Linked DNA regions of Homo sapiens: region 2 is reported to be linked to region 1. Evidence: microRNA targets listed by miRTarBase, many of them from high-throughput screens and not tested one by one. Region 1 holds a microRNA gene; the other region holds the end of a gene's coding sequence.

What was found. The annotated mature microRNA hsa-miR-6792-3p reads CUCCUCCACAGCCCCUGCUCAU and lies in region 1 at 2,957-2,978, opposite strand. An mRNA with a match to its seed (bases 2 to 7 or 8) in the 3' UTR can be bound and repressed. Matches are read on the target gene's strand: a 7mer-m8 pairs with bases 2 to 8, a 7mer-A1 pairs with bases 2 to 7 and ends in A, and an 8mer does both.
Region 2: the mRNA of TXLNG is a reported target of hsa-miR-6792-3p. Seed matches in the 3' UTR shown: 7mer-m8 at 1,890-1,896 and 8mer at 1,948-1,955.

Annotation. Positions count from the first base shown.
Region 1 is chr19:7,615,530-7,620,457 of GRCh38, reverse strand. MIR6792 (microRNA 6792) reads right to left here and starts at 3,019; the gene lies at 2,953-3,019. It overlaps CAMSAP3 (calmodulin regulated spectrin associated protein family member 3), which reads right to left. Exons shown (of 17, transcript NM_020902.2): 13 at 4,739-4,928; 14 at 3,836-3,935; 15 at 3,020-3,132; 16 at 2,797-2,915; 17 at 2,154-2,706. The coding sequence ends at 2,401. XAB2 (XPA binding protein 2) reads left to right here. Exons shown (of 19, transcript NM_020196.3): 16 at 12-183; 17 at 383-512; 18 at 602-711; 19 at 811-933. The coding sequence ends at 872.
Region 2 is chrX:16,841,453-16,844,452 of GRCh38, forward strand. It overlaps TXLNG (taxilin gamma), which reads left to right. Exons shown (of 10, transcript NM_018360.3): 10 at 1-3,000. The coding sequence ends at 314. It overlaps RBBP7 (RB binding protein 7, chromatin remodeling factor), which reads right to left. Exons shown (of 12, transcript NM_002893.4): 12 at 2,889-3,000. Among named protein-coding and RNA genes, the nearest start is that of RBBP7, 27 kb to the right of the region's middle.

The sequences.
Region 1 (4,928 bases):
CCCCCACGCAGACGACCGGCGCGTTCTGGCAGACGTGGAAGGACTTTGAGGTCCGGCATGGCAATGAGGACACCATCAAGGAAATGCTGCGTATCCGGCGCAGCGTGCAGGCCACGTACAACACGCAGGTCAACTTCATGGCCTCGCAGATGCTCAAGGTCTCGGGCAGTGCCACGGGCACCGGTGAGCCGTCCCAGCTGGCTGAGTTCCTGATCCAGGGCATCTCAGCCCGGCCTGACCTGGGCTTTCCGGGTCTGGGAGCCTCGGATCCTGATGGCAATCTCCTTGAGGGCTGGGCCATCACCTGGGGGACTGGGATAGTGCAACGTCCGATGTGTGGGAGGGGCCCCCGTGGCGCTGACCCCCTGCTCCCACCCCCTAGTGTCTGACCTGGCCCCTGGGCAGAGTGGCATGGACGACATGAAGCTGCTGGAACAGCGGGCAGAGCAGCTGGCGGCTGAGGCGGAGCGTGACCAGCCCTTGCGCGCCCAGAGCAAGATCCTGTTCGTGAGGTGAGGGCGGATCCTTGGACGGGACAGGACTGGGACAGGTCCCAAGGGGGCCCGGGGTGGGGAACTGAGGCAGCATGGCCCGTCCCTAGGAGTGACGCCTCCCGGGAGGAGCTGGCAGAGCTGGCACAGCAGGTCAACCCCGAGGAGATCCAGCTGGGCGAGGACGAGGACGAGGACGAGATGGACCTGGAGCCCAACGGTGAGGGCCCGGCTGGGGCGGGGACGGTGGCATTACCAGGGTGGGCCTCGGGGGACAGGCCAACGCCAGGAGGGTGACTGGCTCCCGCCTTCCCCACAGAGGTTCGGCTGGAGCAGCAGAGCGTGCCAGCCGCAGTGTTTGGGAGCCTGAAGGAAGACTGACCCGTCCCTCCCCCATCCCCCCTCCCCACCCCCTCCCCAATACAGCTACGTTTGTACATCATGGTCTGAGCCTCCTTCCTGCTGCCCAGGTGCCCGAGGGAGTACAGCTCAGGAGTGCCTGGCCCTGGGCCGGGATTGGCTGCTGTGGGAGGTGGGGCGGCTGGGCCCCAGGCCAGATACTGCCCGGCCTCACCCCGCAGAGCCAGTTCTGGACTCGAGAGGCCAGTCCCTCCGCTGCCTGGGGCCTTGGAGTGGGTCCTGCCCGGAAACTTCCTTGAGCCTCTGTAGCCTGGGAAGGGCAATCCAGCCCCTGGCTGCCCAGGTCTCGCCAGCCCCTGCCTCTCAGAGCCCTTCTGTGGCCCCAGGCAGCTGCCGCCTCCCTGGGGTGGCACCCACTGTCTGTTCCCCACTAGGGACTGGCCCTTGCCCTCAAGTCTTGGAGTCAGGCAGGCTCTGGCCCAGCTCTGGGAACTGATTAGTAACGCGTTTCTGTGCCTGGACGGGGGCCAGGCGCCAGACCTTGTGCACGGCCCAGGACCAGGGCGTGGTCCTTAGTCCTAAGCCTGGGAAGCCATTAGCGGGCTGTAGGCTATTAAGGGGTTTTAAGTATCAAGGGATATAATCAGATTTGTGCTTCGAACGGGTCACACAGGCTGCTGTGTGGGCAGGAGGCAGCTGGGGACATGGGGAGGCCCAGGCCATTGGCTTGGACTTTGCAGGGAGGTGACAGGGCTGGAGAGAAGCGAGTGAGACAGGAGGGGAGGGCTGAGCTGTGTAGAACTGGGCGGCAGCTGGGAAGCCAGTGCCAGCCTGGGTTGCAGGGCAGGCCTTGCATCTGAGAGAGACACCCAGGCAATGGCAGGGGGCAACTGGATTGTCAAACACAGATCTCAGAGAAACCTGGAATCACTGGCCCAGAGGTAGATGCCAGGCCTGGAAACACCAGGCTGGCCAGGGGAGACAAGATCAAGTTAGAAGTTGGCCCCATGCCAAACGCTGGTTAGGGCCAGTAACAACAGCCACACAGACCAGGAGAATCCAGCAAGCGGGGGTGGCCAAGGCCACAGGAAGGGCCAGTGGGACACCTCGAGCCTGAGAGATCAGTTCAGAGGCAGCTTCGAAACAGCCCTGGCTGGGGGCTGGGAGTGCCCTGGCTGAAGCTGCATTAGGGGATTATGGGGGTTGAAGACAGGAGTTGGTTTGAGAAAGAACAGGAGACTAAAAACACAGCCAGGGAGTGTGGGACCCCGGCCAGCCTCGGAGGGGGGGACAAGGTTCAACTTCTCTTTAAATTATTTTATTCAAGAAGTGGGGGAGGACAGACAAGGGGACTGAGCTGAGCCCTGAGTCCCTGAACCTCCCAGCTCAGCCCCCACAGCAGGACTGGACTCAAAGTCAGAGGGTGGAGACTCCAGCCCCACCCAGACACGGTTGGGGACAGACAGGACCCAGGAATACCGACTGACTGTCCTCCAGGGGATGGCGGCCGCAGCACACAGGGCCCGGCCCGTGGACCGCCCGGGTGGGGCTATTTGGGGGTGCCGCCGCCCTTCTTGGGAGTGGTGGGTTTCTTGCCCTGCCAGAGGTGTCCCTGGATGGTGAAGGCATCGACGCTCATGGACATGGTCTTGGCGGGGATCTGGGTGAAGCGCTTGCGGTCCGAGTTGTACTTGTAGATGCCTTCCACCATGGCGGGCGTGACGGTCCGGGGCCCATACCCTGCCAGCCGCGACAGCTCCTCTGTCTCCCCCGACAGCGTGTAGAGCGCCCGGAACTGGCAGCTCGAGTCGCGAAAGAGGATCAGGAAGTGGTTGGCCTTGCTTTTCTCAATTTCCTGGGCAGGAGTGCTGGAAATGGTCAGCTGGCCAAGTCAGGCCACCCACCCACCCACCAGCCCCCAACTCCCACGTGTGGGCGGGCTCACCTCCAGAATGCGATTCTTCTGCGGTTCGTTCACCTTGCCCGCCAGGCAGCAGTGTGATAGGGCATTGTGGATGATGAACTTGTTGGACTTGGCGCTGGGTTCTTTGTACAGCCGTGGACCTAGAGGGTGAGGCAGTGGGAGGGGGTGGGGGGCAGCAGGAATGAGCAGGGGCTGTGGAGGAGGGTGCCTGTTGCTCCTCACATCACCCAGAGCCCCTGCTTACCTGTGTACTCGGGCACTGACGCTGGGGAGGAGGCATTGCTGCCATTTTCCCAGTCCCGTTCGCGGCTTCCAGGCAGGCGGCTTGGGGACATGAGACCTGACGGGGAGGGAGCCCTGCAGTGGGAGAAGGATGGGATGGAGGTGGGGTCAGGATGGGATGGAGGTGGGGTCAGAGATGGGAAGCTTCCCTATGTGCAGAGGGGCCAAGGAAAATAAGGGCCACGGCTGGGCATCGTGGCTCATGCCTGTAATCCCAGCACTTCGGGAGGCCAAAGCGGGCAGATCACTTGAGGTCGGGAGTTCGAGGCCAGCCTGGCCAACATGGTGAAACACCGTCTCTACAGGCACGGGTAACCCCAGCTACTCAGGAGGCTGAGGCACGAGAATCACTTGCACCCAGGGGGCGGAGGTTGCCGTGAGCCAAGATTGCGCCACTGCACTCCAGCCTGGGCGACACAGCAAGACTCCCTCTCAAAAAAACAAAAAAAAAAAAAAAAAAAAAAAAGGCGGGCCACACACACTGCAGAGGAGGCGGTATACACTGCACACCCTCCCAAGTCCATGCAGTGCCCCGTGCTGTCCTCCTCCCACAGGAACACCTGGCACTCAAGTGCACTGAGGCACATGCTTGAGTCCTGTCTGCCAGGTACAGACTATGCCCCATGCACACGTGCCCACACGCGTCCCTCCATCTCTTCATGGCGTATCCATAAACTCGAGCCATACCGCCCTCTAGGTTCACCCAGATGCCCACACACCTCCCAGGCTCTGGGAAGCCACCCGGCATACGAACCCCGCCTGTGCGGGCTAAACTCACCGAGACGTGGGCCTCTTCACCCCGAGGTTATTGTGGGCCTCGTTGGCCACAGTGGACAGTGACAGGGTGGACTGGGAATAGATTTTGCTCAGCCGAGAGCCTGGGGACAGAGATTGCAGGTCAGTGCCCACCAGAAGCCCCTGCCCTCCACAACACCCGGTCCAGCAGGCTGTGGGGGGAACACAGGAGGAGTCAGTCCTGCCCAAGACCCCTCGGCCCTCTGCAGCACCCCTATGGGGGGACCCCTCTATGAGGGAGGATGCTTTGCCCAGCAGGCAAGTGGGGAGCAGCACTGGGTCAGCCCCTACTGGCAACGCCTCACCCCAAACATACTCCCAAAGGTTCCTATCCATGAAGCCACAGAAGAAAGACCCCTCATCCCACTGCACCCCACATCCCTATGGAAGTCTTTTTTTTTTTTTTTTGTCTTATTTCTGAGACGGAGTCTCGCTCTGTTGCCCAGGCTGGAGTACAGTGGTGCAATCTTGGCTCACCGCAACCTCCACCTCCCAGGCTCAAGCGATTCTCCTGCCTCAGTCTCCCAAGTAGCTGGGACTACAGGCATGCCATATGCCCGGCTAATTTTTGTATTTTTAATAGAGATGGGCTTTCACCATGTTGGCCAGGCTGGTCTCAAACTCCTGACCTCAGGTGATCCGCCCGCCTCAGCCTCCCAAAGTGCTGGGATTACAGGCGTGAGCCACCGCGCCCGGCCCCCTATGGAAGTCTTTACCCAAGAGACAGTGTCCAACCCCACCTGAGGCCCCCTGTCACCCCACATACCCGCCCCCTCCCGGCACCCCTGCTTACATCTCCCTCCCCCTCCCCCCTTACCCATGGGGGCCTCACCCAGTGAGCCCCGGAAAGGGCACTGGGCAGGCCCCGTCCCCCAAGGGTCCTCACCCAGCAGGCCGCGGGCTGGGCTTCGTGCCAGGGCTGAGTCGTCACAGCAACCCGAGCGAGGCCGGGTGGCCCTCCGCCCGCCCCGACCTGGACCCCCGGACCCCGCAGCCCGGGGCCGCAGCACCTTATCGAGGTCGTCCATCAGCTTCAGCTGGGCCCGGCGCTCGTACTCCTGCCGCGTGAAGTCCCC
Region 2 (3,000 bases), not on the chromosome of region 1:
AGGCCCTTCAAATAAAACTGGAACGGTTAGAGAAGCTGTGCAGGGCTCTTCAGACAGAAAGGAATGAGCTCAATGAGAAGGTGGAAGTCCTGAAAGAGCAGGTATCCATCAAAGCGGCCATCAAAGCGGCGAACAGGGATTTAGCAACACCTGTGATGCAGCCCTGTACTGCCCTGGATTCTCACAAGGAGCTGAACACTTCCTCGAAAAGAGCCCTGGGAGCGCACCTGGAGGCTGAGCCCAAGAGTCAGAGAAGCGCTGTGCAAAAGCCCCCGTCCACAGGCTCTGCTCCGGCCATCGAGTCGGTTGACTAAGATGAGGTGTGATCACTGTATTGAGAGATATATTTTGTGTATAACTTTCTCTGTTAGTAGTTAACTATTGGTTTTGTGGTGAAAATTTTCTTACTTTTTCTACCATATCTGTATTTTCTTAGAACTACTGGACTTATGTGGTACAGGAGGCTGCTTAGCAGTTTTGAATAGTTTAATCTATAAATTTTCCTCAGCTGTGTTGCACATCAGCCTCGTTCTCCCTCCACTGGAATGCATGTGTTCATTGCCTTGTCCTTTCTCTCCCTGCTCCTTGCACATTATCATCCTAATGAAAATTTCACTGACAGGGCCGACCATTACAAGGGAACTTTGTTCTGACGATGGTTCCTTGATGTGAAAACAATATTAATTTAAACGTCTTAGCCCCCCCCCCCATAATATTATTCAGAAAAACAAAATACCAAGGCGATTAGTTTTGTCTAATAACCCATTTAAATGCCAAGTAAAAATAAAACTCCTAGTGTTGGGTCAGAAGCATATTTGATTGAAATTAGCTTTTTGAAAACATTTATATCTCGGGACAAATTGAGATGGCCACATGCCTAGAATCCTAAGTTTCGGCAGAATATGTATATAAAGATGTCACTTGTGGACAAAATAGTACATAGAGGCAAATCACTAGACAAATAAGCTTAGTGTTTACGTGACTGAACAGTCATCCTGCTTTGGTTTCAGGTGTGGGATTTGGACCATGAGGGGCTCCCGTAGAGGATGGCGGTTTGTGTTTGATTCTGATTTGGGATTTCAGTACATATTCTCCACTTCCCATAGAAGGCCACTTATTCTTTGAAAACTGGTGTTCATGTTTGCCGTTCAATGAAGTCCCTTGTCAAAGACAAGGACGGTCAATTCACGTGTCACTTTCACTAGGCAGAAGTTTCTCCAATACCTTCTGGCTACTTGAAAGTTACTACAAAAATTCCACCAGCAAAGTACTCCAGGTTTTTCAAAAGGGAATTTTCATTATGGATCAGTACCAACCGAAATTGATTTTCATTTCCAAAACAAACACTGGCACCAACATTTTTACTTTGGGAAGACTTGGCAGAGTGTTAGTCATGATCTGTTACTTACGTGTTCAGTCTGTTTTCTCACCCCCTTCTTAGTTACCATCTCTTTTTTAAGAAGAAAAAAGAAAAGCCACAGTATTATCAAGGTCTCTACACTTGGACTGGGGGAAAATTTGAAATTAAGCACATAACTTTTGAATTAGTTCTTTGTTTCAATGTTGAATGTGGCGCAGTTATGCAGATGATTAATCAGGCTGCACTGATGGAAGTTTTGACTTTGTCCCTGGTATAATTTGCATTGAAATGCTTTATGAAATAAAAGGTTCTACTAGAACTGATGTTAGCACATTCCACTGAGCAAAACTATCAGACTGACACTTGTTAAATTGCTTACTGGACTGAATAAACTCTGTTTTGTCCAGTTAAAAGGGTTTTCTCTTTGTTACAAGTGTTATTTGTAAAGTCCTGTCACATTCATGGTCGAAACTGGGTTGAAAGAATTGAAAATTGTCCAACAGATAGATAGATAGGAAACCGCCTGGAGTGGAGGAGGGTTGTATCTAAGCCTCCACTATCAGTCATGTTAATTCAAGGGGCCACAGTGGAGGAAAATAAATCCACAAAGTAGATTATCTAATTACCATCAAAATGAGTCAGAAGCAAAAAACACCACCCTCCAACAGCCTCTTAGGAGTACACCCTGTTCTGCTACTAAAATACTAGACTCATTTCCCTGGTGGTGGGGGGGAATGCAGGTATAGATCAGAAATATAATCCACCTTAAAATTAGTACTAATGATCACATTATTTCACAAGAACTCTGCTGGATGTACAGCTCTTAACATTTTATTAAGCCATTTGTGTAGCCCACCACGTTTCTTTGTGGTGCTTGTCCTGTGTGGAAGATTGTAAATCTTGGGCCTGTTGCATACTTCCAAGGGCTTTAAAGCAATGTGATTAACAGTACTTGGCCTGCTGCTTTTGGCTTACTTTGTATTTTTAGCTAGATGCTATTATAGTGTTGAAAGGATATGGATTCTGTCTGGGATGCATTTGTTGTCCTTTCAGAACCCTTCCTCCCATTACCCTGTGAATAAAAACAAATGGGACCCCCTGAGAAGGACATCTTCCTACAGTGATCACCTCACCAGCCCAGTGTTGTGGCTTTGTAGCGCACCCCGTATCTACCATATTCTAGAACACTGTAATGCTACTAGGCTGGCCCAGAAAAGGTTTAAATGTTGAATTCACTTAAATTGCAATTGTTGCACCATCATGGAATCGTGATGTGTATTATTTATATTGGCGGTGGACTCCAAGGTGTAGAGAAAACTTGGGTCTTGGGTAATATGGACCATTTCATCCTCAGACTTGTTAGGAGTACATTTCTTGGTCTTGAGACCAGTATTTTTCAGTTATGTATGCAACTGCCTTTATTACACCTGGTTATCACAATTCAATTCTCAGGTGTTGCAGAAAAATCTACCTCTTTCAGACTGTAGATGGAAATAACTGTGAAAAAAATGATGCAGATATCTTCTAGTTTGTGCTAAACACACTGCTTTATTTTTACAGCCCACGTCTTTCATGAGGATACGAATTGTTAAGAGGCAGTCTCGTTTTGCTTTTCAAAGACATTTTGTAGAGATTTTTCA